7 linked regions of the Homo sapiens genome follow. The protein of the gene in region 1 purifies or fractionates together with the protein of each later gene. This does not show direct contact. Each region holds a gene or a part of one and is shown in the gene's direction. Other genes may lie near its edges. The genes, in order: SFRP4, B3GALNT2, ITPRID2, UCK2, ATAD2, ANKRD17 and PASK.

Evidence for each region.
Region 2: the proteins of SFRP4 (region 1) and B3GALNT2 purify together in Homo sapiens (affinity purification with mass spectrometry; 2 studies listed by BioGRID and IntAct, with this or other methods). This does not show direct contact.
Region 3: the proteins of SFRP4 (region 1) and ITPRID2 purify together in Homo sapiens (co-immunoprecipitation; one large-scale study listed by IntAct). This does not show direct contact.
Region 4: the proteins of SFRP4 (region 1) and UCK2 purify together in Homo sapiens (co-immunoprecipitation; one large-scale study listed by IntAct). This does not show direct contact.
Region 5: the proteins of SFRP4 (region 1) and ATAD2 purify together in Homo sapiens (co-immunoprecipitation; one large-scale study listed by IntAct). This does not show direct contact.
Region 6: the proteins of SFRP4 (region 1) and ANKRD17 purify together in Homo sapiens (affinity purification with mass spectrometry; 3 studies listed by BioGRID and IntAct, with this or other methods). This does not show direct contact.
Region 7: the proteins of SFRP4 (region 1) and PASK purify together in Homo sapiens (affinity purification with mass spectrometry; 2 studies listed by BioGRID and IntAct, with this or other methods). This does not show direct contact.

The regions. Positions count from the first base shown.
Region 1 is NC_000007.14:37,909,837-37,914,288, reverse strand, and holds part of SFRP4 (secreted frizzled-related protein 4 precursor), read left to right. Parts: intron 1-10; coding exon 11-76; intron 77-1,971; coding exon 1,972-2,170; intron 2,171-4,452.
Region 2 is NC_000001.11:235,483,355-235,487,806, reverse strand, and holds part of B3GALNT2 (UDP-GalNAc:beta-1,3-N-acetylgalactosaminyltransferase 2), read left to right. Parts: intron 1-3,291; coding exon 3,292-3,485; intron 3,486-4,452. UniProt on the Homo sapiens protein: Beta-1,3-N-acetylgalactosaminyltransferase that synthesizes a unique carbohydrate structure, GalNAc-beta-1-3GlcNAc, on N- and O-glycans. Has no galactose nor galactosaminyl transferase activity toward any acceptor substrate.
Region 3 is NC_000002.12:181,914,778-181,919,229, forward strand, and holds part of ITPRID2 (protein ITPRID2), read left to right. Parts: intron 1-438; coding exon 439-1,650; exon of another isoform or gene 1,651-1,822; coding exon of another isoform or gene 1,823-1,909; exon of another isoform or gene 1,910-2,060; coding exon of another isoform or gene 2,061-2,120; exon of another isoform or gene 2,121-2,228; intron 2,229-3,545; exon of another isoform or gene 3,546-3,693; intron 3,694-3,820; coding exon 3,821-3,898; intron 3,899-3,977; coding exon 3,978-4,105; intron 4,106-4,452.
Region 4 is NC_000001.11:165,885,903-165,890,354, forward strand, and holds part of UCK2 (uridine-cytidine kinase 2), read left to right. Parts: intron 1-4,301; coding exon 4,302-4,452. UniProt on the Homo sapiens protein: Phosphorylates uridine and cytidine to uridine monophosphate and cytidine monophosphate. Does not phosphorylate deoxyribonucleosides or purine ribonucleosides. Can use ATP or GTP as a phosphate donor.
Region 5 is NC_000008.11:123,343,550-123,348,001, reverse strand, and holds part of ATAD2 (ATPase family AAA domain-containing protein 2), read left to right. Parts: intron 1-595; coding exon 596-910; intron 911-1,251; coding exon 1,252-1,384; intron 1,385-1,729; coding exon 1,730-1,916; intron 1,917-2,932; coding exon 2,933-3,118; intron 3,119-4,452. UniProt on the Homo sapiens protein: May be a transcriptional coactivator of the nuclear receptor ESR1 required to induce the expression of a subset of estradiol target genes, such as CCND1, MYC and E2F1.
Region 6 is NC_000004.12:73,251,853-73,256,304, reverse strand, and holds part of ANKRD17 (ankyrin repeat domain-containing protein 17), read left to right. Parts: intron 1-4,452.
Region 7 is NC_000002.12:241,142,021-241,146,472, reverse strand, and holds part of PASK (PAS domain-containing serine/threonine-protein kinase), read left to right. Parts: intron 1-3,398; coding exon of another isoform or gene 3,399-3,440; coding exon 3,441-3,636; intron 3,637-4,452. UniProt on the Homo sapiens protein: Serine/threonine-protein kinase involved in energy homeostasis and protein translation. Phosphorylates EEF1A1, GYS1, PDX1 and RPS6.

The DNA.
Region 1 (4,452 bases):
CCTTTTTTAGATCGGTGCAAGTGTAAAAAGGTGAAGCCAACTTTGGCAACGTATCTCAGCAAAAACTACAGCTATGGTAAGTCGTCTGTTAAAGCCATTTACTTTTGAGACTTGGTTCATTACAAAGCTGGAATCTCAATAAGGTCGCTCTCACTAAAGCTAGTCACAAAGTAAAGAAAACAAAAGGTTGACTATTTTTCCAGTTGATCATGTGAATTCTATTAATATATGGCACAATAACAACTGCAAAATATCTTGCTTTTCTGGATGAATCAAGTGCAAACAAAGGAAATGACCCAGGTGATAAAAATTACATGCATCAGATTGAAAATTTGACATCTTGATCCTCCTTGTCTTGGTGAGAAGTGCTTATCAGCCCTGATGGCACACCCCACCTGTTCTCTTCCTGAGGTTTTACTGCTGCAGGAAGAATGAGAGAATGATCCATGGATCTGATTATCTGAGAGTCAGAGAATTAAGGCCCATAGGCCCAGACAATTAAGATCTGCCTGCATATCCTTTTACTTGTGACTAGCTACAAATATTTAACATCTTAAATAAATTGTGAAAAAAATGTTAATCACAAAATCCTATGGTTACACTATCGAACTAGTTTAAATGCCCTCCTCTCTCTTACTTGAAAGAACCATTCAGCATTTTCTTCCATGAATAAGTCAGTCATGAAATTTGAAATGTTTTAAGTAATTTTAATTTCACAATTGTCATCTGAAAGTAAATTTAATTAACATATGTTCTTTTTCAATTCAAAAAGAAATGTAAAAGGCAGACATTTTAAAAATGTCTGTTTGGGCTGCCTACTTTATATTTCATTGCATGTCTTAAATCATTTCTGCTGAAATAACATAAAGTGGTTTTAGGGAAAATGCTTATTTTGTTTGCTGACTTAGTTTTCATCTTGCAGATTGAAATTTTATATCAGTAAGAAACTTTAGGATACATATCAGACATGAAAGTAGGAGGATCACAGAAATGTAGAAATCTGAAAAAAAATAAGCTGTTACAAAACTATCAGATTTAAGAATCATATTTAGCCAATGGGGGTAATTCAGCAACAACAAAAAGTAGTTTATCTTTTCCTGTAGCTTTTTTTCTTAAAGCCTGCTCTATGTAGCTACCATCCTCATCTGATTTACTTAGTCCCTCCTCTGCCAAGATCCAGCCTGAGATATTAATCTGAGTTTCACTGTCATGTCATTCTCTGGGGTGTTATGGCCTTTGAACGACCTTGATGAAGAAACCATTTTGTATTCAAGTCCTTTGGTGTCTTCATAAACTGGCTTCCTGAAATGGAATCCAAGACAGAGCCATATTAGGCTGATTACAACTCTACGGGAGGCAGTAATAGCAAGAGACCACAGAAACCAGCATTTAAAACTTGGTCAGAGACAGTGACATTAACAGCCATCTGTAATAACAGTTCTATCTCTGCTCACCATGGGTCTACTTTGTCAGTCTGTGAAGTTAAAAGATTGAGAACAGTAGTCCTCAGAGACTCCCTCCAGTTCAAAAATGTTATGACTAATGACTATCTCTGTAAAACAGAAGAAGCTCAAGCATCAGATGAGTGATTGAAGAAATGCAAACCTTAAGATGACTTCTGATCTGAATATATATGATCCCCACTTCAAATCACCACAAGGAAGAATACAAATATATGTTTCTGTGAATTTTTTACTGACCTAAAGGCAGAGAAAGACTAAAACCTGCTTTTCAGCTTGCTTTCCTATCTTGCAGTATGCCCCGGAACATTTAAGACAATGTTGACAATATAGGACACCATCCATTTAGCATATGACTGTGTGGGCTGTTTGCCTGCACTCAGGCCACTTGGACATAACCATAATTACAGGAGTGATTCTTTAAGAGAGGCTCAGAAGTTGGCATGAATACACCATCCCTAGTTTTTCCCCAAAACCTTCAACAACACTTTTATCTATTTTTAAATTGCAGTTATTCATGCCAAAATAAAAGCTGTGCAGAGGAGTGGCTGCAATGAGGTCACAACGGTGGTGGATGTAAAAGAGATCTTCAAGTCCTCATCACCCATCCCTCGAACTCAAGTCCCGCTCATTACAAATTCTTCTTGCCAGTGTCCACACATCCTGCCCCATCAAGATGTTCTCATCATGTGTTACGAGTGGCGCTCAAGGTAGGCACAAAGAGGCAGAAGGAACTGTATGCACACTGTTAGGAAGACCTCAATCTCAGTTAGCAGTCATGGTTTAAAAATATAACAAAAATATGCCAAAGTCTTTTTAAAAAAATTAGTTTAACAGATGCCTCTGTTTGAATAGCATATATTCTATCAATTAATTCTTCATAGAATGAAGGAAAAATCAAAATATGAGTATTTGAATAGAGTCTTTAAAAATCAGTTTCAAAATTCATTAAGTGACTTCAAAATTTACAGCAAGTCAATTATTTTAAGGAAGAACAATTCTTTTCAAATCATTCAAACAATTTTAGAGTGGCACATACTGAACTTTTAAGGCCACTTTAATAGCTTACAGATCAAGTAAGTAGGGAGTTGAGACTATAGTTCCACATATTTTCCATATAAACACTTCATAATATTTGATAGAGTATTGCAAACAAACACGCATGCACACACACACACTTTAAGGTGATTTCTGAATCGGATATGTGATTCTCAATTCAAATCATCACAAGGCAATGTATAAACAAATAAATATATGCTTCACACACACTCATACACATACACACAAATTCTAGCTGTGTGTATTTGTCTCCCTGGCCTCTCTTTCTTTCTTATTTTTTTTGGATATTGGTACATTACTTGTAATATAAAGTCAAACTCTTGAGCCCAGCCTCCATGTTGGGCCCCATAAGTTGATGCAGTATACTTCTCCAGCAAAATCACTCAGTTTTACATAACAAGGCATCCCTCCCATTCTCTGCTGTTAATGCTCATCTGTTTCTTCTAGATATAACCTAAGACTATTCCTCTGAAAAGAAACCAAAAACATCTTTGGGAACTAACTCCACTTTTCTGTATTCTATCAGTACTTGGGTGCCCTCCTTACAACATGGATATCACCTTGAGTTCTTGGTTTTAAAGCCAGATTCTGCGTATATCTTGTCTCCCTAAAGAAGCAATCAGTGATTCTGGACTCATCTCTACCAAGGTGTTTGCATCTGCTGCAGTGCTAGAGATCCAGTTGGGGATACCAGGTTGTTGGTCATTACATTCTATCTGGAGAGATGAATGGATTATAATCCATCCCAGTAAAAATAGTTTTGGATAATTGGGATTTATGTCCTCACAAATGATTCTAATAAATTGGTAAGGGTATGTAAAGACAATTCTGAAAATAAGAGAGGAAATCTGCCTTATGAGACCCGCAAACCTGGTGTAAAGTTACACTTGTTAAAACCATGTGATGCAATAGTAGACGTAAAGATAAATGAAACAGAGGAAAAACTCTTGAAACAGGTTTTAATGCATAAAATACAGCTTTTCATTATGAAGGAAATATGGCACATCAATAGAAAATGAATGTATTATTTGGTAAATGTTGAAAATATTCCTATTTGTAAAAAAATACATTCTTTTCACTTTATACTGTGCTTTACAATAACTTTCAAATGGATTAAATAGATAAATATTCTAAGAACTTTAAAAAAAGGACAAAATTAGTGACTAAATATGTTATATCTGAAAAGAAAAGTAATTTGTAAACATAAAAGTAATGTAAGAAATTACAAGGAAAAATATCAATACACATATCTGACTGCATAATATTATACATATAAAAATCACAAATAATGATAGAAAGGCAAATAAAAATTGAGAAACATACTTGAAAAGATATGAAAAAATAGTAATCTTACTAAAGAGTTCATAAAATTAATATTTAAACATTGAGATCATGATATAGAAATATATATACAGAAATTTATATAGAGAAGTTCAAATAGTAATACAAATAGAATACAGATAGTAAGTAAACATTTAAAAAATTATCTCCTTAATTCTAAATCCAAATAAAAATAAGATTCCATTTTCACCTAATTCTTAATGTTAGTGAATTGGATGAAAGTGCAACCATTTTGAAAACAACTTGGCACTATGCATTGAAAATCTTTTTAAAAAATACATACCCTTTAACTCAGTTATTCTATTTTAAAAATCTGTCCTAAGAAAATAATAAGCCAGTGCACACTACTGTATACAGGGTTATTCAATGCAATACTGGTAATCATAGCTAAGCAAAAGGGGAATTCAGCAATAAAGAAATGGATAGATATATTATGGATATCCATATTCATAGTATTATATTATTAACATTATATTTTTAAATTACTCTAATTACATCAGAAAATTTAGATCATATAATGACAAAAGGAAATTTGCAGATCAGCAGATCATCTCAATACACAATGTGATCTAATAAATATAATTAATATTGT
Region 2 (4,452 bases), on another chromosome or scaffold:
GTCTCAAAAACAAAGACAACGAAAGAAAGCTGATCCTAACTAGGTTCTCTGTGTCACCAGGGAACCAATTTTAGGAAGTTGATAAGTTTTTAACTGTCTGTGTTTATTAGCAATTCCCATTATGTTCAGCTGTGTTTCTAAGGGAGGTTATACTTCCAAGTCTTAAATATGCTGATTAGGACTTCTGGTATTTTAAGGTTTGTTAAAACTGTATAATTAAGTAACACCTCACTTTTATAAGCAGTCTCCATGGCTCTCAATCCAAGCTTTGCCATTTTCTAGCTGTGTGACCTCCTCTGCCTCAGTTTTATCATCTGTAAACTTGGGATAAAAGAATCTCCCTCATGGGGATTGACATAAGGATGAAATAAGTTGATACATATGATGTATTTAGAATAATAGTTCCTAGAAGGTGGAAGGTACTGAACATTATTTTAAAGAGCCTGCTATTTTATAAAGCTGGGTTTCAAACAGCTTTTTAAATAAATTGGACAATATATTCAGGTCTGTATTACAAAATAGAGGTTTCTTACTTAGGATGTCTGTGAATTCAGTTAACATTGTAAGCAAATTTTATGTATGAATTGTGTGCTGGGGAGAAAGTCCTTTGGCTTTCACTGGAGTCTTGTCTTTTTTTTTTTTTTGGAGACAGAGTTTCGCTCTTGTCACCCAGACTGGAGTGCAATGGCGCGATCTCGGCTCACTGCAACCTCCACCTCCCAGGTTCAAGCGATTCTCCTGCCTTAGTCTCCCGAGTAGCTAGAATTACAGGTGCCCGCCACCACGCCTGACTTATTTTTAGTAGAGATGGGGTTTCACCACATTGGCCAGGCTAGTCTCAAACTCCTGACCTCACGTGATCCACCCCCCTCAGCCTCCCAAAGTGCTGGGATTATAGGCGTGAGCCACCACGCCTGGCCTCACTGGAGTCTTAAAGGGATCATAAACCCCATAGAATGTTATGTCACTGATGTGGTATCCACTGATGTATCCTCCAACAAATTACAATTGAAAACCAAACCAAAACAAAAAGAAGCCCTTCACTTTTAAATTAACCATATTTTTATTATCTTAAGTGCTGTTATTTATTAAAAGTAAAGAAGTAGAACTTTATGTTAAAAGAACATTTTCATATATGTAATACCTAGGTTATGAATTTTTAAATGCGTATATAACTAAGTTAATATTGAACCTAATCTTATCTTTTCGATGATCCAAAGGCAGTTATGGTTATTTCAGTACCTGAAGGTCATGGTAAGCATTAATCATCGTGATACTGTGGCTGTGGTAGAAGGTTTAATAGCACTGTAATGCAACGGGATTTCCTGTGTCCACGTAACTTGAAGCTCAAGGCACAATTCTTTTAGATAAGAAAATATCTAAAAATGCTATATTATAATTGACTTATTGCTTTTAATAAAGAGGTTTCTACTATGGATATCTGTTATTTACTGAATATCTTAAAGAGAAAAAATTGTATTGTTGTCCATTATGTTGTAGTCTAGACTCTCCAGTTAGTGCTTGCCCAGCCCATGACAAAAAACTGTATTCTCCCTTTTTTCCCTCCTGTTCATGTCTATAATTAGGTAGGAGTCATCACTTCCCTTTAATCCCATTTTACTGAATATCTACTGAGTGTAAAGAGCTTCTAGGAAGTCTGACGTGGGCAACCAAATGACCTAGAGTATAGGAAGAAAATGTAATTTCTTTTTTTTTGAGACAGGGTCTTGCTCTGTTGCCCAGGCTGCACTGCAGTGGCACAATCTCAGGTCACTGCAGCCTCTTCCTCCCAGGCTCAAGCAATTCTCGTGCCTCAGCCTCCCAAGTAGGTGGGATTACAGGTGTGTGCCACCACGCCCAGCTAATTTTTGTATCGTAGAGACAGAGTTTCACCATGTTGCCCAGGCTTAGAATTTCTATTTATCTGAAAATAAGAAAATACAATCTTTATTAATACTGAATATATAGACTCACCACAATATATGCATATATTTTGTAAGTAAATAGGTGTGTGTACAAATATTTTTAACTGATGGTGTTGTGTAGTCAGCAAAATTTGAAAACCACAGCTCTAAAAGATACAAAGAACTTTGATATAATCTTTTAAAATAGGGTTTTATATTATTAAAGTAGCACTGATATTCCCTGCCTATGAACTGCTTTATTTAATGTATTCTGATTCATTTATGGTAATTAGAAAATTTATTTGAAGGCTGGGCACAGTGGCTCATGCCTGTAATCCCAGCACTTTGGGAGGCTGAGGCGGGAGGATTGCAGTTCAAGACCAGCCTGGGTAACATGATGAGACCCCCATCTCTACAAAAAATTAGCAAGGCCTGGTGGTGTGTGCCTGCGGTCCCAGCTACTCAGGAGGCTGAGGCAGGAGGATCCCTTGAGCAAAGGAGGTTGAGACTGCAATAAGCCATGTTCATGCCACTGCACTGCAGCCTGGGTGACTGGGTGACTGTCTCAAAAAAAGAAATAAAAGAAAAATTATTTGAACTGTTTTGGCACTGATTAGACAGCTGTGAGGGAGTGGAAAGGGGACTGACTTTGGAATCACTAAATGGGACTTGATTCCTGGATCTGCCACTTTCTATGACCTTAGGTGAATTGCTTAATTTTGGGCCTCAGTTTCTTAATATGTAAACTGGAGATAATGCCACAACCACAAGGGTAGTAGTGAAGATATAAATGTGATGGGAAATGGTACATAGAAGATGGTTCAAAACTGTGTTTGATATGCTTATCTTTTATCAGTGCTGTACAGCAAGAGTTTTTCAGTGTTATTTGAAGTGACTTCAGTTGCTTATTTATACCGTAATAATTGCCTGATGTATCACAAGTATTTTAAATTGCCTAACAAGAAGTAGGATTTTTGGAATTTGCACAGTAAGACCAAATTTACTGATTATTTATGACTACAGTCAGTACTGTTTTTCTTATTTCTATTTATCCAACCCTTCCAAATAGATGCCTTCCAGTTGACTTAAATTTAATATCTCCTGTGGCGTTTATACATATATATGCACACATTTATGCAAAAAGCTATTAAAGCAGTTCTGATAATTAACTTACTTAGATGTGGCTGAAAACTTTATTCTTAAATTTCAAAAATGTTTATATAGAAGCAGCCATTTTTCTCAAGCATTTTTTAAAAATTCCTGCCATTTGTGAATTATATAGCAAATGATTACCTAGGTTTTGGCATTAAGCCCACTTCACTACTTCTTACTAGTAAAACAAAGGATTACATTTGTTCAGTTATATAAACCTGTTCTCATTACTTAGTTTTGAATCAGGAAATTGAAGCGTTCAGTCTGTCCGAAGACACTTCATCGGGGCTGCCTGAGGATCGAGTTGTCAGCGTGAGTTTCCGAGTTCTCTACCCCATCGTTATTACCAGTCTTGGAGTGTTCTACGATGCCAATGATGTGGGTTTCCAGAGGAACATCACTGTCAAACTTTATCAGGCAGAACAAGAGGTATGCACTGCTCTGTACAGGTTTTTTCTCTTTTTTCTTTTTCAAAAACATCAACTTTTCCTTGTGACATACAGTAAGTAGATTGGAAGACTATATAATTCTCTCTGGTTGAGAGACTTTCACCTTTCTTCCCCTATTGACTAAATACACTGTAGTGTGATATAAGACTGGTTTGGGGATAGATTATCTGTGAATAAATGTGCTATATCTAGAAGAGAAGGAGTTGACTAGATTAGAAATCTCCAACCTAAAATTCCCTAAAACCTAGGGAATTTCAAAAGTTGGTAATGGATATAAAAAAAGTTTAGGATTCTTAGGATAAGTGAGTATTATTGCCTCTTACTTCCAACTGTAGAAGTCTGTAATACAAGGCTAATAACTGCTTCAAATCTTTTTTGTAATAAGGATATAGAGGGAATAAAAGTTATTCTTTTACAGAAAACAGAAAACCAGTGAGGTTTCTCTATTCCCGATATGTAGGGAAATCTGATTTGTTCACAGAGTGCATGTGAAGTAGCAGCATGGAAATGTATTTGAAGGATCTGTTTTTTAGTTTTAAACATGAAGAAAACTTGAAGGAATTATTCAGTAAACCCTATAGCCACTAACTACATTCTACAACAATTAACGTTTTCCTGTATTTGGTTTATTACTCCTAAGTAGCTGGGATTCTAGGTGCATGCCACCACACCTGGCTAATTTTTGTATTTTTAGTAAAGATGGGATTTTGCCATGTGGGCTAGGCTGGTGTCAAACTCCTGACCTCAAGTGATCTGCCCTTCTCGGCCTCCCAGAGTGCTGCCTCAGCCTCCCAAGTAGCCTCCCAAAGTGCTGGGATTACAGGCGTGAGGCACCGCACCAGGCCTGGTGTGCTTTTTCTTTGTCTGTTTTATTCAGGGCGTGCTACATGTTTCTTCAATCTGTAAATGTATGTATTTTACCAAATTTGGGGGATTTTCAACTATTA
Region 3 (4,452 bases), on another chromosome or scaffold:
AGAGATACCCTGGTCTTGGAGAGGATATGATCAGGAACCCAGGTTGGAGGGATTCGCTTTGAGTTTCCTTTCAGAATGGAGAGAAGGAGGGAATGATGGGGAGAGATACAAGGAAGTTTTTAGATGTTGGGGAAGAATGTTAGGAAGTGTTTGTCCATTTTCTCTATGAGTCAGTGTGTTGTATTGAAAGGAAAGGGGGAGGTTGTTGGAAAGGGAATTTTAGGAAAACAGTGAAGTTCTGAAATAATCTTTGTGAGAAAGTGAGAGGAAGGAGGGATGTGGTTGCTGCTCAGGAGCAATAAAACAATTTTGAGCAACAGCAGGGCCACAACTGCAGTGGAGACAGTGAAATTATAGAAGCACCATGTTGGTTTGGTATTTTGTTAGTGACTCTTCTTACATATATTCTTCATCTTTCCACCTATTTTCTTTTCACAGGTTCAGGAGTCCTTGCAGGCTATGGGGAGTAGTGCTGATAGTTGTGACAGTGAGACAACAGTTACGTCACTTGGTGAAGACCTTGCCACACCAACAGCACAAGACCAGCCTTATTTTAATGAATCAGAGGAGGAGTCTCTTGTCCCTCTTCAGAAGGGACTAGAGAAGGCAGCAGCAGTTGCAGACAAAAGAAAATCAGGTAGCCAGGATTTCCCTCAGTGCAACACCATTGAGAATACAGGAACTAAACAGTCCACCTGTAGTCCAGGGGATCATATCATTGAAATTACTGAAGTGGAAGAGGATTTGTTTCCAGCAGAGACAGTAGAGCTACTGAGGGAAGCAAGTGCTGAAAGTGATGTGGGTAAAAGCAGTGAAAGTGAATTTACTCAGTATACCACACACCATATTCTGAAATCATTGGCTTCTATTGAAGCTAAATGCAGTGATATGAGCTCTGAAAATACAACTGGGCCTCCCTCTTCCATGGACAGAGTTAATACAGCTTTGCAAAGAGCTCAAATGAAGGTTTGCAGTCTGTCTAATCAAAGGATGGGGCGTAGCCTGCTAAAATCAAAAGATTTGTTAAAACAAAGGTACTTATTTGCAAAAGCTGGCTATCCTCTAAGAAGGTCTCAGTCTTTACCAACCACCTTATTGAGCCCAGTAAGGGTTGTGTCCTCTGTCAATGTTCGATTATCTCCAGGAAAAGAGACCAGATGCAGCCCACCTTCCTTCACCTATAAGTACACACCTGAAGAGGAGCAGGAATTGGAAAAGCGGGTGATGGAACATGATGGTCAGTCTTTAGTTAAATCGACCATTTTCATCTCTCCATCATCTGTGAAGAAAGAAGAAGCCCCCCAGAGTGAGGCGCCGCGGGTGGAGGAATGCCATCATGGAAGGACTCCTACCTGTTCACGGCTTGCTCCACCACCAATGTCTCAGTCTACCTGTTCCCTTCATTCCATCCACTCTGAGTGGCAAGAAAGGCCCCTGTGTGAGCACACAAGAACTCTGAGCACTCACAGTGTTCCCAACATATCAGGGGCTACTTGTAGTGCCTTCGCTTCCCCTTTCGGGTGTCCTTACTCACATAGACATGCCACCTACCCTTACCGAGTGTGCTCTGTGAATCCTCCTTCAGCCATAGAAATGCAGTTGCGAAGAGTATTACATGATATTAGAAACTCACTGCAGAATCTTTCACAGGTATGAGAAAAAGTATGTTATCATTAGCTTTTTTCTTTTACTGCTCTGAGCACTTTTTAATTCACAGAGAAGCTAAGGCACATCAAGTATGAACTACCTCAGCTTTATTTTCTGACATGTCTAAACTTAATCTGCATCTGCCTTCGTTTTCTATCTTCCCTCCTGTTTCAAGGGAGAAGCTGTAACTAACCCTGATCAAAGTCGATTTCTCTGCTCACAAGTCTGTCTCCTTTCCAAGAGGAGAGATTTTTCTCGTTAAGTATCCTCCCATTTTTAGTCTATCATCCACTGTCTTTGTTTTAGTCTAGAATCTTTTGTCATTTCTATTATTAAAAAATCTTCCCTCTTAAAGTTCTTTCTCTCTTTCTCTCTGCTATTTGAACATGTTGACTACCTTTTCCTTTTCCAAGTTTTCTCCCTGTTGGCTTCTGTGGCACCACGTTCTCCTGGTTCTGCTCGTAGCTCTCTGACTAAGCTTTCCCCTTCACCTACTGACCCTCGATGCTGTGCACAGAGTTAGTCTACTTCCACTGGACTCAAAGACTGGAACTACTCCAGACCAGAAAATAACAAATCAGGTAAAGTGTGAATTTGATTTAAAATGCTCTGTATGTCTTGTCACTTTTAAAGTCATTCTCAGATTTGTTAGTAGACTGGAAATAATTTTCCCAAAAAAATTTTGAAAATAAGTACGTTGTCTTCAGTTTTGCCTTTTACATTTTCTTGAACATTCTCTCTGAATGAATCATGTTTAGACAATTGAGGGATTGAAGAAAATGACAATGTAATATAGTCATGAGAGCATTCAACAAAGAGTCAGGAGGCCTAGAATGAATGTAATAGACCTCTTATCATGACATAGTAGACAGGGAGCCACTTGGAAAGTAAAAATCAAAGGTGTAACTTCTCAAGTTATAATAAGATATACCTCCTCTTAACTGTAAGTTTTATCCTCATGACAATTGTCCCCTAACAGTTTTCTGTTTAAACAGAATGTGGGTGTTTCTTATTCCTCCTTACAAAATATAGTTCTGTCTGTGATGGAACTTGCAGCTGTGATTATGTCAAGCTGGGGATTTCCAGGACCCTGTCCACCAGTACCGTGGTGCATCTTTCTAGGCCACCTAGTTCTTCTGCTCCAGCTGTGGTCTCTTTCTCCTGGATATCCCAGCAATAACTCAGCTAATACATCTCCCCATGCCTACCCCACCCTACACTAGTGGACAGGTGCTTTCTATGATGTGGTCTCTGACTATCTCTCCAGCCTCATTCCTTAGCTGTAGGATTGTGCACAGGTCTCTAAACAGTTGTGTGTTCTTAGGTATCTGCACATGGCTGATTTTGTGTTTTGTTTTTTTAAAATAAAAAGATGAAGTTTCTGTTTCTCGCCCACGTGGAGTGCTGGAGACAGTGGTGTAATCATGGCTCCCTGCAGTCTTGAACTCCTGGGCTCAAGTGATCCTCCTGCCTTGGCCTCCCAAAGTACTGGGACTATAAGCCACTTTTTTTTAACCGAGATCACCCAGTCTTTGCCTTTCTTTGCATAATCAAGCCCTATTTACTGTTAAGGCTCAGTTCAAGTAGTGTTACCACTTTTGGGAAAGTTCACGTAATCTGAATTTTTCTGTGTTCATCATAGCACTCCTTCCACAGTATTAGAATTTTTTTAAAATTTCCTTTATTTTTCTTTACACTGTGAGAACACCTGAAGGCTGGGAATACCTTTTATGTTTTTATCTCACTGCCTAAAATAGTGGCATATAGGAAATGCTAAGATGTCTGAGAAAGACGACAATGATTGCTTGCTCTCCAGCAAAGTTAATAATCACTATAATCTCATGATGATATTTGCAATGGCTTCTACATTTTTGCGTTTTGATTTTGTTTTTTTTTAGTTTCGCAAGAGGGAAGTCCTGAAAGAAATAGATGTGAACTATGTTCCTTCGCCTCCTCCTCCCACGTAGATTGACTTATACCTGGAACAGCTAGCAGTACTAGGTGTCATTGGGAACTGATTTCTTTTTTCCTGCTTACAATATGAAGGTTTTTTGGATCCTTTTGTCTTAAAGAGAAAAATATATAGGCCCCAAATTCTGCCTTTTAACCCCTTAAGTGATTTGGAAGTATTCACTTTAACATTGGTTTTAATCCTACTTTTACTTTTTTGAAGTACCCTATGATGAGAGGACCTGATCCTGCTGCTGCTCCATATAGTACTCAGAAATCATCTGTTCTACCTCTTTATGAAGTAAGTTCTTTCTTACATCTTTGTGTTCCAAAATAATTTGTAGAATTTAGAAGTGTAATTTTGTTATATTGCATTCTAGAATACTTTTCAGGAGCTCCAGGTAATGAGGCGGAGCCTGAATTTGTTTAGAACACAAATGATGGATTTAGAATTGGCAATGCTGCGTCAGCAAACCATGGTTTATCATCATATGACTGAGGAGGAGAGGTAAAAGTTCATTTTGTCTTAGCACACCTCAAAAAGCTTTTCATTCAAAGTCTTCTCAACTTATATTTTTTAAAATTAGGTTTTGATTCTACTGCTGTGTACCTTGTATCTGTTTTGTGAACCAGTGTAGATAAGATTAGTCATAGATAGTGTTTTACTAAGTAAACTTGTATGCCTTCAATATCCTAAGGGTAGTGGTAACCTGCTTTCCCGTGTTTGAGATATTTGTGAGAGGATAGGGGAAGAAAGACTAATGTCCTTGTGGATACACCTATTGTAGTTGATATTGTACTAATTTCTAGAACCTGAGATTTCCATGCCTTCTGTTAGCATATAGTAGTTGTTGA
Region 4 (4,452 bases), on another chromosome or scaffold:
TAAAATACACATAACATAAAATTTACCATCGTAACCGTCTTTAAGTGTACATCTCAGTGGTGTTGAGTATATTCACATTATTGGATGACCAAATTCCAGAACCCTTTCATTATATAAAATCCATTCAACAACTCTTCATTTTCCCCTCCCCTCAGCCCCTGGCAACCACCATTTAACTTTCCGTTTCTATGAATTTGACTTTGCATAGTGCATTTCACTTTGCATAGTGAAATCCTATGGTATTTGTCTTTTTGTGACTATTAATATAATTGTTAAGTCTTAGCCCACTGTAACAGTTGTACCCTTTCCCATTTTAGATTTCTATAGGCTCAGGATTGCCTGCCTTCTCAAACCCTGGTTATTGGTGGATTATTTCTCTTTCTTTTCTTTTTTTCTCTCTTATTTTTTTAGAGATAGAGTCTTGCTCTGTTGCCCAGGCTGGAGTGCAGTGGCATGATCATGGCTCACTGCAGCCTTGATCTCCTGGGCTCAAGCAGTCCTCCTGCCTTAGCCTGCCACACGTAGCTGGGACTACAGGCACAAACACCATGCCTAGATAATTTCTGAATTTGTGTAGAGGTGGGGTCTCACAGTGTTGCCCACCCTGGGCTTGAACTCCTGGGCTCAAGTGATCCTCCTGCCCTAGCTTCTCAAGTCACTGGGATTATAGGTGCACGCCACTGTGCCCAGCTGAATTATTCTTAAGGAACAAGATGACACCTCAGAGCTCCATTTCATCCTTTTGAAGAGAGGGGCAGGATTAGGCAAAAGGAGAACACAGAGATGATAGTGAAAGAGATACAGAGGTGAGTGTTAAGTAAGCGAAAGAGCATTTATTCAGGGCAGAGTAGAGTCTCTTTGTGGGACTCCTCCTTCCCTCCCTGCCTTCTTCCCTACCAGGTAAAAATTCAAACCTACACAACAATAGAGAGGATGATATAACCAAACCCTATGTACATGTCAGCCAGATTCAACAGTTATCCGGATTTTTTAGGGCCCATTTGTAATATGGCCCAGGAGGAAGAAAATGCCTGAACAATCTAGATTAACCTAGAGGCAGGTGTTTCTTTGCTTATTTGTGCAATTTTATTTATCTCCTTCCTGATAAAGGGCTTCTTCTGCCTTGGGACTTCTTACTATCTAAGGTTGAGGTAAAGAGCCAGGACTCTATGAAACCACATTACTTAACTTGGTTTCCTCATCCATGTAGGAGAGCACATGTGGCTTCTAAAGGTGGTCATAATGGAGTGTTTGGCACAGGGACTGCTGCCTAATAAGTAATCATTTACACTGTTAGCAGTGGTAGTGTGTTTGTGGAAGGGAAGGGTCACCAGCCAGGTCCTTGAAAACACAGGACTGAAACATGCAGCGGGGGATCAACACAATTAGTCATACTGTATCATTGATCAAGGGTTGGGATGAGCGCTGATTTTCTAGAATTGCACCTACTGTATGTTCATTATCCCATTTTACTGGCCATTGTACAGGTTCTGTCCTAGATTGTGCTGGGTTAAGGGAAACAGTAGTTTATCTGCAAAATTAGGTAGTGTAACTTTTTAATATGCTTTTTTGATGGTGATGGGATTGCTATTTACATTAAAAACATTTTATGGGTTTTAAATATAAATAAAAATATCACAATTTGAATAACTAGATAATATACATTTGGCTTCGTGAATCACTTTTTTGTTTTTGTTCTTTGGAATTCTAGGAGGAATTCTATCTACTAATAAAGGCTGCAGACTTTATCTTCCTACAACCTTAGGACGTAAGAAACGTCCTAAGATAGATGCCTGGGAGGAAAAGGAAATTGAGGGCCTACAGGTGTTTAAAAACCTATAGTTTATAATTGCTTAGAGCCTTTGATTTCCCCCCCCACCCATCCATCTGTAGCACCCAGAGAGCCTTGGTTTTGTAACATTTTCACTTTTGAATCTAGTTTATCATATGAAAGTTTTACTGTTCTGTGATATTTTGGGGCATGGGAGGATCTGTGGTCCCAAAGTCCAGAGTAGTTTTAAATGTTTTTCTGTGTTAATATGCAAAAGTATCATGAAGGCGAAATAAATTGTTTGCAAATAATTGAGTCAAAATATTATTGTTCCTCCAAAGATCCTTACTTAGTCGTGTGTCACAGCTTGTATAACAGGACGTATTTTGCAGAGCTGTTTAGTTTGCACTGACTTGTGCAACAGGAATGGCCAGTTTTCCTTACGCTCAGGGCAATCAAACACAACTTTATAAGAATTGTAACTTTAAAAGATTTCATATTTTTGTTGTTGTTGTTGTTAAAATCGTTGATGAAATAAATTCAATAGTAAAACTTCTAAGATTTGAGTCATCAAACCTCTAAATATGCTGTTTTTCTGTTCTGTTCTGTTCTGTTCTTTTCTCTTTTTTCTTTTTTTTTGATGCAGTCTCACTCTGTTGCCCAGGTTGGAGTACATGGCACGATCTCAGCTGACTGCAACCTTTGTGTCTTGGGTTCAGGCGATTTTCCTGGCTCAGCCTCCCGAGTAGCTGGGACTACAGGCATGTGCCACCATGCCTGGCTAATTTTTGTATTTTTAGTAGAGGCAGGGTTTCACCATGTTGGCCAGGCTAGTCTCAAACTGACTTCAGGTGATCCACCCACCTTGGCCTCTTAAACTGTGGGATTATAGGTGTGAGCTACCCTGCCTGGCCTAAATATGCTGTTTTTCCTTTCTATTTATTCGGTTGACCAGTTTCTTTCTTCTTCTTTTTTTTTTTTTTTTTTTTTTTTGAGATGGGGTCTCACTGTGTTGCCCAGGCTGGTCTCGAATTCCTGACCTCAAGCAATCCACCCCCTTCAGCCTCCCAAAGTTATGGGATTACAGGCATGGGCCACCGTGCCCGGCAGGTCAATCAGTTTCATTAGAAGACTTGGGTTATGTCTCCTACAGCTTGTGTAATACAGACATTTTTATTTTTACATTAGTCTTTGTATGAAATGAAAAAAGAAATCAGTTATTTGATAAATACAATCCTTCACTATCTCATTCTATTGAATGCACTTGTTTCATAATGTTCCTTTTACGAAGAGTATATTGAAGGGAAAAAGGGGCAGACACATGTATTACTATCTGTTTTTCTTTTTTTTAAATTTTAGGATACATGTATTACTAACAACAACACACAAAGCATGTAGGTTTGAGTTCATTTGGAGTTGGCTTCTCCACTCTTGTTTGGGATACTCCTAAGTTGTTTTAGATGTTGGTGGTGTTTGTGTTCCTTGTCACCCTGTCTGTGGTGACACACGTTTGTGAAAAGGCCACCTGGTTTACTGTAGATGTGAAGTCATGGCTGTGGACTGGAGCAAAAGTAACCAACAGAAGTAGGATTAACGCTGTGAGCATAGCCTTCTTGCTAACTAGCTGAGCTCTCTGGCCATGGTTTTTGGTTCCGTTGATATAAAGAGATGTGCAGGGGCTGAGTGGCATTCCATGGATGTGCAGTCACCTTGTGATTCCAAGGCCCTGTAGCCCCTCAGCACATCATCACCATGCCTTCATTCTACTTTCTGCTGCCTTTTTTGTCTGTCTATACCAGGGCACAAGCAGACAGGATCAGGTAGCCCTACCTTTATCAGTGGCTCTGGGAAAGGCTCTTCTGGAGGAGGAGGTGGTGTGTGCTGCCCTCCTTCCCCCACCATCACTGCAAGTACCTGACAGTAGTAAGCTGTGTTAAGGGAAGGGAGGAAGGAACTTTGGGGATCCTAAGACTTCTCTGTCACAGGCGTGTAAGGCGGACTCTTCTCCGTTAGCCTTTTTTTTTTTTTTTTTTTAATTTAACTTTTAAGTTCAGGGGTTTGTTACATAGGTAAACTTGTGTCACAGAGGTTTGTTATACAGATTATTTCATCACCCAGGTATTAAGCCTAGTACCCATTAGTTATTTTTCCTTATCCTCTGCTTCCTCCCACCCGCCACCTCCAGCAGGCCCCAGTGTGTGTTGTTCCCCTCCCTGTGTCCATGCATTCTCATCATTTAGCTCCCACTTACAAGTGGGAACATGCAGTATTTGGTTTTCTGTTCCTGTGTTAGTTTGCTAAGGATAGTGTCCTCTAGCTCCATCCATGTTCCCACATGAGACGTGATCTTATTCTTTTTATGGCTGCATCCCTTAGCCCTTTAACTCATCATGCACGATAGCTGCCTTTGGATTCTTCCTTCCAGAGCCCCTTCTTGGAAGGTGTGCATCAGCTTGGTTACTCTCGGGACTTCCTCTGTACCACACGTGCCCTTTCTCTTATTCCTGGGTGCTCTCTTCTCTCCTCACAGTCTTCCGTGTGTGCTAAGATCGTGCAGCTCCTGGGGCAGAATGAGGTGGACTATCGCCAGAAGCAGGTGGTCATCCTGAGCCAGGATAGCTTCTACCGTGTCCTTACCTCGGAGCAGAAGGCCAAAGCCCTGAAGGGCCAGTTCAACTTTG
Region 5 (4,452 bases), on another chromosome or scaffold:
ATTTGTGGCATTTTCTTCTCATGAAGTCTTGGTATTAAATAGAGATATTTGACAAATTGGCCATCAGGGGCAGAGTAGATAATAATATAATTGTACAAAATACAATATATTATTATATCATAATAAGATAATAGCTATTCTTTACTGACCATTTTGTAGTCATCCTTTTAAGCATTTTACATATATTATTTCATGTAATTTTCACATCATTCCTGTGATGTAGGTAGCAGTATCTCTACAGATGAAGAAATGGCTGGAGAGCATTATGTGAATCTTCTAAGGTCATACAGCTAGTAAATTACAAACTGGAATGTGAATCTAGTCTGTGTGATTTTAAAACTCTTGCTTTTGACCTCTGTGCTATACTTAGTGCTTGTGTATTGCACTCTTAAAAGTTGATTGATTGTTGATGGCCATTACTACCCTATAAGTTTACTGGGTAAAAGAGATTTTGGTCTTATTACTCTTAAATATTTGCTAACTATATTCCGAGGCTGATTTTTAATTTTTTTTTTAACCATGGTCATGCTAATAGAGTTTTGTGTTTCTTTGTTTGGTCGGCTGGTTCTTTTCTTCCCCTGGTTGCTTTGGATAGGATACTGTGGAGCAGATATTAAATCAATATGTGCTGAAGCTGCTTTATGTGCTTTACGACGACGCTACCCACAGATCTATACCACTAGTGAGAAACTGCAGTTGGATCTCTCTTCAATTAATATCTCAGCTAAGGATTTCGAGGTAGCTATGCAAAAGATGATACCAGCCTCCCAAAGAGCTGTGACATCACCTGGGCAGGCACTGTCCACCGTTGTGAAACCACTCCTGCAAAACACTGTTGACAAGATTTTAGAAGCCCTGCAGAGAGTATTTCCACATGCAGAATTCAGAACAAATAAAACATTAGACTCAGGTATAAAACTTGATTGACCATTTAAAGTTAGTTTTTATAATCAGTAAAGTGAAATGTTTCATACATACCAGAAATATTTATTTGTAAAAGAATCTCTTGAAAAGAATTTGGTAATGCTTTACCTGGGATATTTGAAGGAAATTTACTCCATGGATTGCCCTTAATTTAACTTATTGTAAGTTTGGGGTGCATTTTTACATTTACTTATTAATTCATATCTACACAAATATTTTTGATTCTTTGAAAAAATTTAATTGAAGTATGCTGACTTGGTAACTGAAGCAATAAAGATTTGCTTTGCAATCCAAAAGTTACTAATGTACAATTTTTTGGTTTTATAGATATTTCTTGTCCTCTGCTAGAAAGTGACTTGGCTTACAGTGATGATGATGTTCCATCAGTTTATGAAAATGGACTTTCTCAGAAATCTTCTCATAAGGCAAAAGACAATTTTAATTTTCTTCATTTGAATAGGTATATTTTTCTTGCAAATCAATGTTTTTTGCATGTGTAAATTTTCTAAAAATAAATGAGATGTGGTTGAAAAAATAAAAAGTGCTAACCAATCTGCTTTTTATTTAAATTAAACTACCAGAAATTTTTTGTTGTTACAGTTGTCACAACAGTAGAAATTACAGTCTATAAAAATATTCCTAAAAACCTTTGGGGGTCAGTTTCCAGAAACTATGTGAACCATGTTATGATTGGTTGGCCTTATTGGCAAGACTTTTTACTTATGAAAGTTTATAGTTGACAATTTAGGGGGAAAATTTAAACTGTTTTTTCTAAAACATAGCTTATTAATCATTTCTCTTTCAGAAATGCTTGTTACCAACCTATGTCTTTTCGACCAAGAATATTGATAGTAGGAGAACCAGGATTTGGGCAAGGTTCTCACTTGGCACCAGCTGTCATTCATGCTTTGGAAAAGTTTACTGTATATACATTAGACATTCCTGTTCTTTTTGGAGTTAGTACTACATCCCCTGAAGAAACATGTGCCCAGGTAATTTGTTGGTGCCCAAGTATAAGACAAAACAGGCTTTCAGAGGCAAAAGCTAAAATTGCCCCATTTTTTTGTATTGTGTTTTTTTGTCTTTCTGATTTGTAACTTTAGGTTTACAAAACAGAGTTATGCATGATTGCTTAGTCATTAAAGAGAATGACTTTAAATCCCACATTCACCCTTAATATCTTTGTGACCTTAGTAAAGTTGTTAGATCTCTCTAATTTTCCCCTTTTGGAAAATGGAGATAATACTACTTACCTCACATGGCTGTTGTGAGAATTAAATGAGTAAAGTACTTAAAATGGTGACTGCTCCTTAGTAAGTACTCAGATATTCTGCAGTTTCTGTTTTTGGTATTTGTATATTAACTTTTTTTTGTTTGTTTTTGGTTTTGGTTTTTTTGAGACGGAGTCTTACTGTGTCACCAGGCTGGAGTGCAGTGGCACGATCCTGGCTCCCTGCAACCTCCGCCTTCCGGGTTCAAGCAATTCTCCTGCCTTAGCCTCCCGAGTAGCTGGGACTACAGGTGCAATGCATGCCGCCACACCCAGCTAATTTTTTTTTTTTTTTTTTTTTGTATTTTAATAGAGACGGGGTTTCACCATGTTGCCCAGGATGGTCTCAAACTCCTGGGCTCAGGCAGTCCACCCGCCTTGGCCTCCCAAAGTGCGTGGATTATAGGCATGAGCCACCGCGCCTGGCTATATTAACATTTTTAAAACATAAAAATATTTTATATTTGTAGTTTTGTTTACTTTTGATTACCACAATAGAAAAATCTTCTAGATTTCTCCAGCTGTTTTCTAGTTGCTTGAAGAAATTATCTTTTTCCAAAAAAATGAAACTTTTAATCCACATTTAAAAATAAGGTTGTGGGATTTTGGAGAAGCATTTTAAAAACTTGAGGACTTTATATGTTACTCCTGGGAGGTTAAACATTGTTTCAGACTAATAGAACTAGCATTATTAACGTGCTGACTCTAACTGAATTTGTTTTGTTCTCTCTCTACTAGGTGATTCGTGAAGCTAAGAGAACAGCACCAAGTATAGTGTATGTTCCTCATATCCACGTGTGGTGGGAAATAGTTGGACCGACACTTAAAGCCACATTTACCACATTATTACAGAATATTCCTTCATTTGCTCCAGTTTTACTACTTGCAACTTCTGACAAACCCCATTCCGCTTTGCCAGAAGAGGTAATTTATGTGGGGCGGTATCATTATACTTTCAAAAAGAGTTGTTTCTACCACAATAATCATAACTTATTGAAAAAATTCAAATGCTGTAGAAGTGAATAAAAGGATAAGTTTTCTTATCAAATATACCATTGGTAACTATTTGGTATATGTGCTCATTGGGCAAGATGGTATATGTATATGTGTATGTATATATTAAGGATACATAAATTTTTTCTCTTGAAAAATGGTATTATATGCCGGGTGCAGTGGCTCACGCCTGTAATCCCAGCACTTTGGGAGGCCGAGGTGGGTGGATCATGAGGTCAGGAGATTGAGACCATCCTGGCTAACAGGGTGAAACCCTGTCCCTACTAAAAATACAAAAAAAATTAGCTGGACGTGGTGGCTGGCGCCTGCAGTCCCAGCTACTCGGGAGACTGAAGCAGGAGAATGGCATGAACCCTGGAGGCAGAGCTTGCAGTGAGCCGAGTGAGCCACTGCACTCCAGCCTGGGCGACAGAGCGAGACTCTGTCTCAAAAAAAAAAAAAAAAAAAAAGTATTTAAAAAATGGGAGTATATGATACATACTATTCTGCAATTTGCTTTATTCATTTATCAATAAATGTATTCATGTATTTGTTAGTGCTAAAGTCTCTTTAAGAGCTGCATGGTTTTTCCACTGTTGATGTACTATAATTTATTTATCCAAAGCCCTATTGATAGGTTTTTTGGTTGTTTTCCAGATTTTTTTCTACTGGACTCTTACAGTGAGCATCCTTGTATTTTAGTTAGTATGAGCACTGGTATGTGGATTTTTCTAGTTTTGATTCCTAGAAGTGGAATAGCTGTAGCTGAATCAAAGAGTATTTTACATTTACAAGTTTTAACAATATTAAATTACTCATTCAAGTTTGTGCCAATTTAGACAACTGCCAATAGTGAACAAAAGGCCATACTGCTTCTGCCTGGAATACTCTTCTCTTACATACTTGCCTGTCATCATTTTTTATTTTTCTCAAATCTCTGCTCAGATATCACCTCAGGGAGGCCTTCTTTGATCAGAGTTTCTCAATAATAGCAATAGCTCTTTCACCCATCACACTCTTTTCCCTTTTCCTGCTTTATTTGTATTGCCTCCTGCCATTAAATATTAATTTGCTTGACTCTGTTTCCCCATCAGAATGTAAAGTACATGAAATTAGGGACTATTTTTTGTCACCTTTGTGTCCATAGAGCACATAACAAGCATATTGTAGGCTTCTGTGTATTTTAATGAATGAGTTTAATGGTTTTTTTTCACACTTTTGACAATTGGTTTACACTTTTTAGAACACTAGTAGGAAGATAAGCT
Region 6 (4,452 bases), on another chromosome or scaffold:
TAGGTAGTTTTGTCCATTGGAATGCGGCCTAATAAGCAGAACTTTTAGTAATTCCTTAAATCATGAAGAATGGCTGTAAGTTTGTAGGTATGTTTATTTTGTGGGTCAGGTTTGTTTTCCTTTTGTAATATAGGAATGGTTATGTTGACTTTCACCAACTATGGTAGTATTTCTATGTTTTTAACATACCTTATCCTGTCTTTTACATGGTGTTAAACAATGGGTTTGTCATTTATGAAGATGAGTCAGGAGAAATACGTGTAAGAAAGTGTGCCCATTGGCCGGGCGTGGTAGCTCACGCCTGTAATCCCAGCACTTTGGGAGACCGAGGCGGGCGGATCACCTGAGGTCAGGAGTTTGAGACCAGCCTGGCCAACATGGTGAAACCCCATCTCTACTAAAAATACAAAAAAATTAGCCGAGTGTGGTGGCAGATGCCTGTAATCTCAGCTACTTGGGAGGCTGAGGCAGGAGAATTGCTTGAACCCGGGAGGTGGAGGTTGCAGTGAGCTGAGATTGCACCATTGCAGTCCAGCCTGGGCAACAAGAACGAGACTCTGTCTCAAAAAAAAAAAAGTGTACCCATTTAAAAAATCTATACAGATGAGGGATGAGCAGACAAAAAGGAGTACAGATTGTCTCTGCCCCATCTTCATCTTTTGATCAAAGTAAAGACAAATAAAACTGTAAGCTAAATGGGTGAGTTGTGTAATGTTTTTCTCTTAATTACCATTTTACTGACATGTCAGCAGAAGCCTAACTTTCTGGAGCTAGGAAGTCTTGTGGCTAAAATCACAGTGTTGTCTTTTCTCTAATTCATTCTGTTATAGGCTACACAATAAAAAAAAGTAGATAAAATGATCTTTAAAATTATCCTTCCAGTAAAAATCATCAAAAGATTAAAAAGGAATGTGAAAGGTTATGGTTTTGTGGTATTTAACCTGAAAGGATAACTTTAATTTAACAAAAATACATAGCTTTGCTATAAAGAAATGCTATCTGAATAATCTCTGTATCTGCCAAAAGAGGAAAAATGGAAGGAAACGAGAATCAATTCAAATAAGAGCTTCATTTAATTGTTGAACAATAAGAATATAATTTCTAGACATTGGAGTAGGTTATTGAGAATAGGATTTTACTTTAAAGTATTTCAGAATAGGGTAATCACGTCTTAGATAATTTGCATAACTTCGGGTATACCTGGAAACAAATAAGACCAAGAGCTACTTGCCTCCCTCTCCCCATCTATTTGACACAAAATCTTACATTTAAAATTGAAAATGCATAATTTTCTTGGTTTTCAGTGAGTGACTGACCAATATGGAAAATACAAATATATTTTCTAACATAAAAGCCATGATGCTCTTTCAAATTAGTGGACAAAATTAATTAAATTGCTTTTGACTATTACAAGAAAAAAATCTTATAATTTCAAGAGTTGATACTTTATTTTAGAAATAACATTGCATTCTATTGAATGCATTTTTGAATATGACTGAATGATCTTAGTATTTTTTCTTTCTTTTTTTTTTTTTGGAGACGGAGTTTCGCTCTTGTTGCCCAGGCTGGAGTGCAACAGTCTGATCTCGGCTCACTGCAACTTCCACCTCCCGGGTTCAAATGATTTTCCTGCCTCAGCTTCCCGAGTAGCTGGAATTACAGGCATCCGCCACCAGGCCTGGCTAATTTTTGTATTTTTATTAGAGACAGGGTTTCACCATGTTGGCCAGGGTAGTCTTGAACTCCTGACCTCAGGTGATCCACTGGCCTCAGCCTCCCAGAGTGCTGAGATTACAGGTCTGAGCCACACTGCGCACTGCAATCTTAGTATTTTCTAAGGCAGAATTCAAAGGGGGAGAAACATTTTTGTTGAAGATGCTTAAAGTATAAATACAGTAGGAGTTGATCAGAATTTCATCTGTTTTTGTAAGTAACCTGTGACTAAATCAAGAGATAAACCTAGTGAAGAAATTTTAGACAAAGGGAGCCGGTAAATAAATTAGTACTGACTTAGTATTGAAAGGATTTGCAAGGCCAGGGAGGATCTGTTTACAGACAGAAAAAGAGAGTTGAAAATGAGGGAGAAAGAAAAAATATTTCAGAATTAGGCTGTGTTCAGCTTCATTTGGAAATATTCTTGTTTGTTTTTTATTGGAAAAGTGCTATCTAAATTCCTTTTTTGTAATGCTTAGAATCCTAGATTAGCCCAGAGAAGCTTGCTTGTTTCATCTCTTAATTGATGTAGCAGTATTTGTAAACTAGATTTTAAGATCTTTGAAGCAGTAGTCTGTCTTAATTATAATTTATCTTGTCTTCTCTCCTGCTTAAGCACAGTACTAGAAAAAAACAAAACATTTTTAGTGAATAACTAGTACTTAGGGAGGATTCAGCATTCATTTAGGGAAAGAAGAGAAGGAATGGAAATTCTTCCCTTCTTGGATCCAGGGCTTCTGAATAGCTGAAGTTCAGATTTCAACATTTTCCAATTTCTTAATTCCTTTTCGTAGTGATGATGATCTTCTCTAAGTATTAAGGGGAGAGCCAGTTAAACTAATAGGAATTGATGAATGCCTGGTAAGTACCTTAAGCCTCCTAAAATTTTTAAAGAGTAAATAAAAATGAATACTTATTCAGTACCTACTGTTTGTGAAGTCTAGGTAAAGGTTAAAAGTATGGATTTTGGAGCTTGGATTTAAATCCTTGATCCATCATTTACTAGCATTGTGACCTTGGCCGAGTTTTTAAATCTCTACTGCAATTTCCTCATGTAAATGGTATAAATGGTAATGATAGTAGATTCTACCTTATAACATTGTTATGAGAGTTAAATGAGTTAATACAATTTTCTCGTATTCTCATTTTATTCTTGCCATAACCCTATGAAGTAGGTGCTGCTATATTTCTTTCATTATTCAATAAATGTTTGGAGTTCCTACTATGTGCTAGGTATTGTGCTGTACTGCGTGAGCAATGGTGAACAAAACTTGTAAGTCACCTTGATTTAAAAATACACCAATGAATAAATATTATAAGTTTGGGGAGGTGTGAGAGTGAGCTTAAGTGGTTAAATGTACATCTTGAATAATGTGTGAGTTTCAAAGTATACAAATGTTGGCAGGGAGCATTCATTTTACAGGTAAACATACTGGCATAGAAGGATTTTAGGCAACCTCATCAGGGTCACATAGCTAATAAATGTCAGAATGGGATTGAACCTGGGACTGTTAGATTCTACGCCTCCTCATTCATTCATTTATTCTCTCACTCATTCACATGCTCTGTTATGCTGTATGGTGTTGAGTACCATATTTCAGATATTGGCACATTCGGCTTGTATAAGGGGAGACGCTTTTTTGCAGTTGGACGGCCATTGAAGACAAGTTGGTCACCCCAAGTTTTCTTTCCAGTTCTTCTGAAAAACTCACTAAAGAAAAAGAAAGCAAGAAATACAGAAAAGTATAGAAAAATAATCCATATTCCCACCACCTAGAATTAAGTTGTTAACAAGATGAAAACTTCATACTGAAAAACCACCCTTTCTAGAGGCGATTTACCACTTATTCCTTGCCTTTCAAAATATTTACTTTTCAAGGTAATCTCTCCTTATTAATTTGAAAAAAAAAATGTTTCTTTTAAATAGAGATTGTTAACTTGGGGTCTGGCTAGGCTGTGAATCCTCTGATATTAAACAAAAGATTTTGTTGAAGGTGCTTATAAGGCTTTATTTTTCTTCCTTTCTGCTCTAGCCCCATATGTGCAGGATTTTCATTAGATCCTCAAAGAGTTCTGTGACCCCCACCCTCTCCCTCCTACCTTGTTACTTTGAAACATTCTCACTACAGATTTAGTGGGGAATTTGGTCATTTATTTGGATTATTAAGAGTTTGGAAACTGCTTCTAACTAAGCAGATGATGTGGTAACAAAGAAGGCTTATTTGTGAAATAGTGGGTCCAAGATTGATCACATCTTTCTGGTAAACCAGCCTTATGCCTACTCTCTTTTCTCTTATATCTTCATGTTTTGCCCTTTAATTAATGAAGCAGTTTACATTGTGTGCTGTGGACTGTCATATCTGAAAGCAAAAGCCTTGTCTTACTCATCTGTATATCTCCTGCTATACAGTACCATGTGTCTTATGTAAGTCTTTGTATCTCTGCTAGGTTCTCATGAAGTCCCATCTCTGTAGTAAGAATAACTCATAAATATTTCTTTATTAGCCACCTACTGTGGGAAATCTTTGGGACTTCAAGTCTTGAGGTAACAGAACTTGGTTGCAGCTATTATTTACAGTAGATCCCTGTGGGATGTTTTAATTGAACCATTATTTTTAGTTTAGTCATTTTTAACCTCACCAACTTAACTGGAGTTAGTATTGTGAAAGTTTTCAGTGTTTAATAAGCATCAAAGTAGCATATTTTGACTCTCGGAAATTCACTAGACTATCTGTTTCT
Region 7 (4,452 bases), on another chromosome or scaffold:
CTCCCGCACTCCCTCCCTTTCTTCCCTCCCTTTTTTCTGCCTGTCTCTTTGCCATTGAGAACCATATTGTCCCGAACATTCTGGTGTCTTCTTATCTGTTTGCAAAAATTTCTCTGAAATATAAATCTAAGTGAAAAGTGCTGTATCCATATAGACAAATGTTTCACTTGAATTGTTTTCTAAAGAGATTATATTAATGTATTAAGAGTTCCTGTTGATCCAAATCCTTTTTGACATTGGGTATTACTAGATTCTTCATTTCTGCTGACTTAGTAGGTATAACATCATCATGATTAGGATTTCCTCTCCTGTAAAACGCTTGTTCCTATTTCTTGACATTTTTTATTGGGCCATGTGTCTTTTAAAAATGTTTAAATTTTAAATAGTTGATCTTTTAAAGCTATTCTGGATATTAATTTTCTGTTGGTTATGTATGTGGCAAATATCTTCTCCCAAATTGTGGCTTGTTCTTTCGTTTTCTTTATGGTATTCTTTGTGAAGCTGTGTTCTCATTTTTTTTTTTCTTTTTTTTGGGGGGGACGGAGTCTCGCTGTGTCGCCAGGCTGGAGTGCAGTGGCGTGATCTCAGCTCATTGCAACCTCCACCTGCCAGGTTGTGTCGCCAGGCTGGAGGGCAGTGGTGTCATCTCGGCTCATTACAACCTCCACCTCCCAGGTTCAAGCGATTCTCCTGCCTCTGCCTCCAGAGTAGCTGGGAATACAGGTGTGTGCCACCATGCTCAGCTAATTTTTTTTTTTTTAGTAGAGATGGGGTTTCACCACATTGGTCAGGATGGTCTTGATCTCTTGACCTCGTGATCTGCTTGCCTCGGCCTCCCAAAGTGCTGGGATTACAGGTGTGATGTGTTCTCAATTTTAACGTTAAACTTATTAATCTTATTTTATAGCTAGAGTTTTTTGTGCCTTGTTTAAGAAAACTTTCCCTACCCCAAAGTCTTACAGATAGCCTCTTTTCTCCTAAAAACTTAGTGATTTTATTTTATATTTTATTTGGTTTGACAGGTCTCGCTTTGTTGCCTAGGCTGGCCTCCATCTCCCTGGGCTCAAGCAATTATCCTGCCTTAGCTTCTAGAGTGGCTCGGACTATAGGTGCAGGCCACGAGACCTGCCTGGCTAAAAAGTTTAGTGTTTTGACTTCCACAGATCAGATCTTTTATGCCCTGGGCACCATAGTGAGACCTCATCTCCTAGTTAAAAAAAAAGATGGCCATGTGAAGATACATACAAACAGGGAGAAGTCGGCCGGGCGCGGTGGCTCACGCCTGTAATCCCAGCAGTTTGGGAGGCCGCAGCAGGTGGATCACGAGGTCAGGAGATCGAGACCATCTTGGCTAACACGGTGAAACCCTGACTCTACTAAAAATACCAAAAATTAGCCAGGCGTGGTGGCGGCTGCCTGTAGTCCCAGCTACTCGGGAGGCTGAGGCAGGAGAATGGCGTGAACCCGGGAGGCGGAGGTTGCAGTGAGCCGAAGTCGCGCCACTGCACTCCACCCTGGGCGACACAGCGAGACTCTGTCTCAAAAAAAAGAAACAAACAAACAGGGAGAAGCTCTGTGATGGCGAAGGCGGAGACTGGAGTGACGCAGCTGCAGGTCAAGAACACCAAAGATGGCCAGTATGGCCAGTAGCCACCAGATGCTAGGATAAGGCAAGGAGGGGGGACTCCTTGGAGTTCCATATTGGAAGAGGTGGTGTTGGGAGGGCCACCTCCCCTTTCCTCTTCACCCCAGGCCTGCCTTGTCTTGGAAGGGCCTCGTGTGGGCATCCTGCTAGCTTGTCCAAGCTCGCTATTCCTGGAAGGCTGCTCCTCAGCCAGTTCACGGCTATAGGTGTGCCAGTGTGGGAGGACCTGGGTGGAAAGAGGCCTGTGTGTGTCTTAGAAGTGGGCACCAGACCCTTTGGCTGGGAACTCTGGGGTTCTGGATACCCAGAAGGTGGTCCAGAAGAGGGTATATGGGGTGTGGTTGGGCTTGCCTTGGCCCCAGGGTCTCCTCATTTCGTGGGGGAAACTCCAGCCATGGTTCTGGTATTGGCCACAGCCTCCTCTTGCTGTTTATCTAAAGCCTGGATGACCAGGTGGGGGCTTCCTGCCAGTAGAGGAAATCTTCTTGCTTTAAGGGCTCTTTTTGTTGAGTTTGGCCATGAGGACAGGGTATTGGTAAATGTGTACTTGTGTTTCAAGTGCTTGCCAATATGCAGGATGGAACTCTTAAGTATCTCCACTCTGCAGGGTGGTCACATGAATGTATACATGTGACAAGACTGCATGGAACACGTGCTCACATGCGCGCACACACACACGCTCATGTACACATGTGCACACGCACACACACGCACGGACACACACGCACACCCACACACACACACACCTGCAGGTAAATGCCTTGAAATCTGGACGAGGCTGATGGATGGTATCAAGTCAGTTTCCTGGCTGTGACACTCTCCTGTAAGATGTCACCATGAGAGGGAACTCGGAAGAGTATGTGAGATTTTCCTGTATTTCCACCCTGTATCAGCATTTGAATCATGTATAAGAGAAAAGCTAAAAATACAAATCTCTGGTGCCAGGCCTGTCTCTAGGAGACATGGCCTCTTGGCCATGGCCCCCGCGACCTCACTTGTTGGCAGCACCCAGGTGATTCTGTGCACAGCTGGTCGGATGGTCAGGACTCACTGTTTAGGGGAAAGCTGAGACCATGGGAGCTGTGCAGCCCCCACGTGCTGATGGGTTCATCATGACCTGGGAGTATTTTCAGTTGGTGTGTACCTGCAGTCCCTGCCTTCCCTCATGGCTCCTTCCCACCCTGTTCTTTGTTTTCCTCTCTCTCTCCTTCCCTCTTTCCCATATCTTCCTATGTATTTTTCTTGGAAAGAGCTTCTTTTTTTTTTTCTTTTTTTTTGACATGGAGTCTCTCTCTATCGCCCAGGCTGGAGTGCAGTGGTGTGATCTCGGCTCACTGCAAGCTCTGCCTCCCGGGTTCACACCATTCTTCTGCCTCAGCCTCCCGAGTAGCTGGGACTACAGGCACCCGCCACCATGCCCGGCTAATTTTTTGTATTTTTAGTGGAGACGGAGTTTCACAGTGTTAGTCAGGATGGTCTCGATCTCCTCGATCTCCTGACCTCGTGATCCGCCCTCCTCAGCCTCCCAAAGTGCTGGGATGACAGGCGTGCGCCACCGTGCCTGGCCCGGAAAGAGCTTCTTTTAGCACCACTTTGGGTGGACCATTCTCCCATTGCGGGTTCTGACCCAGGATGGCGGTTGGTGGTGTATGTCTTTTGGGGCCGAGCTGAACTCAGCATTATAAATTAGTTGGTTAAACTGTCTTTGTGTTTTTGCATTGCAGATGTTAATCAGCTTCATGTTGTTTTCTAGTTGTTAGAGTTGGAAGCTTGGCAGTTGGCCTCCCTTCTTCCCATGGAGGACGGGGGCTTAACAGCCTTTGAAGAGGACCAGAGATGCCTTTCCCAGAGCCTCCCCTTGCCAGTGTCAGCAGAGGGCCCAGCTGCACAGACCACTGCTGAGCCCAGCAGGTCGTTTTCCTCAGCCCACAGACACCTGAGCAGAAGGAATGGGCTTTCCAGACTCTGCCAGAGCAGGACAGCGCTCTCTGGTAATGACCTTCGACCACTGCAGGCCTTAGCGCGTGGAAATACAAATGTGGAGTTGCTCTGTGTTCTCATGGAAACCCTCTCACCAGGGATTGAAGTCACTCTATTCCTGCAGAGAAAAGTTCGTGGTTTAAGTGCTCGGCTCATGCTGGCAGATGACTCCGGCAGGACCCTTCCTGCTGCTTTTACTCTGCTGTGATTCCCAGGCAGCTGGCGCTTCTTTTCAGGCAGCAGGTGGAACTCACCTTCACATTTCAGGGTCAAGTTACAACAAAATGTTATTTCTTACTTTAGAGTATGTGAGAACGCTGTTCTAGGTTAGGCTATTTTACTTAGGGAATTGCAGCTTTGCTCGTGCAGTTTACTGAGCTAAACGCGGTTTAGCTGGTGGACCAAGAATCATGGGGCAGAAGTCTGTTGGTGCCTCCTATGTCCAGATTCCGTTGGTGCCTCCTTTGTCCAGGCACCCCAAAGGACTGGGCCATGGTGAGGAAGGAAGCGTCACTTGCCTTTCAGGGGCTGTCTGATGGAGGCACTTGGGGAGACAGCAGGCTGTGTGCTTGAAGTTGGGGTAGACCTGGAAAATGGGGAAGTGGGGCATAGAGCTGCGGGAAATGGTGGCTGGGAGTCTGGTCTCCAGGTCAAGGAGCACTTCGACACTGGAGTAGGAGGGTGTTGGAGCTGAGCTTGTGCACTGGAGTGTCTGAGGGTGTAGAGCGGAGGGCCCTGTGGAGAGTGCCCAGGATACTGCAGGGAGGGGTGGGCTGGGAGGCACACAGCGCCCTTGGGAGTGGGCTTCACCCAGGCGCTGATCAGGA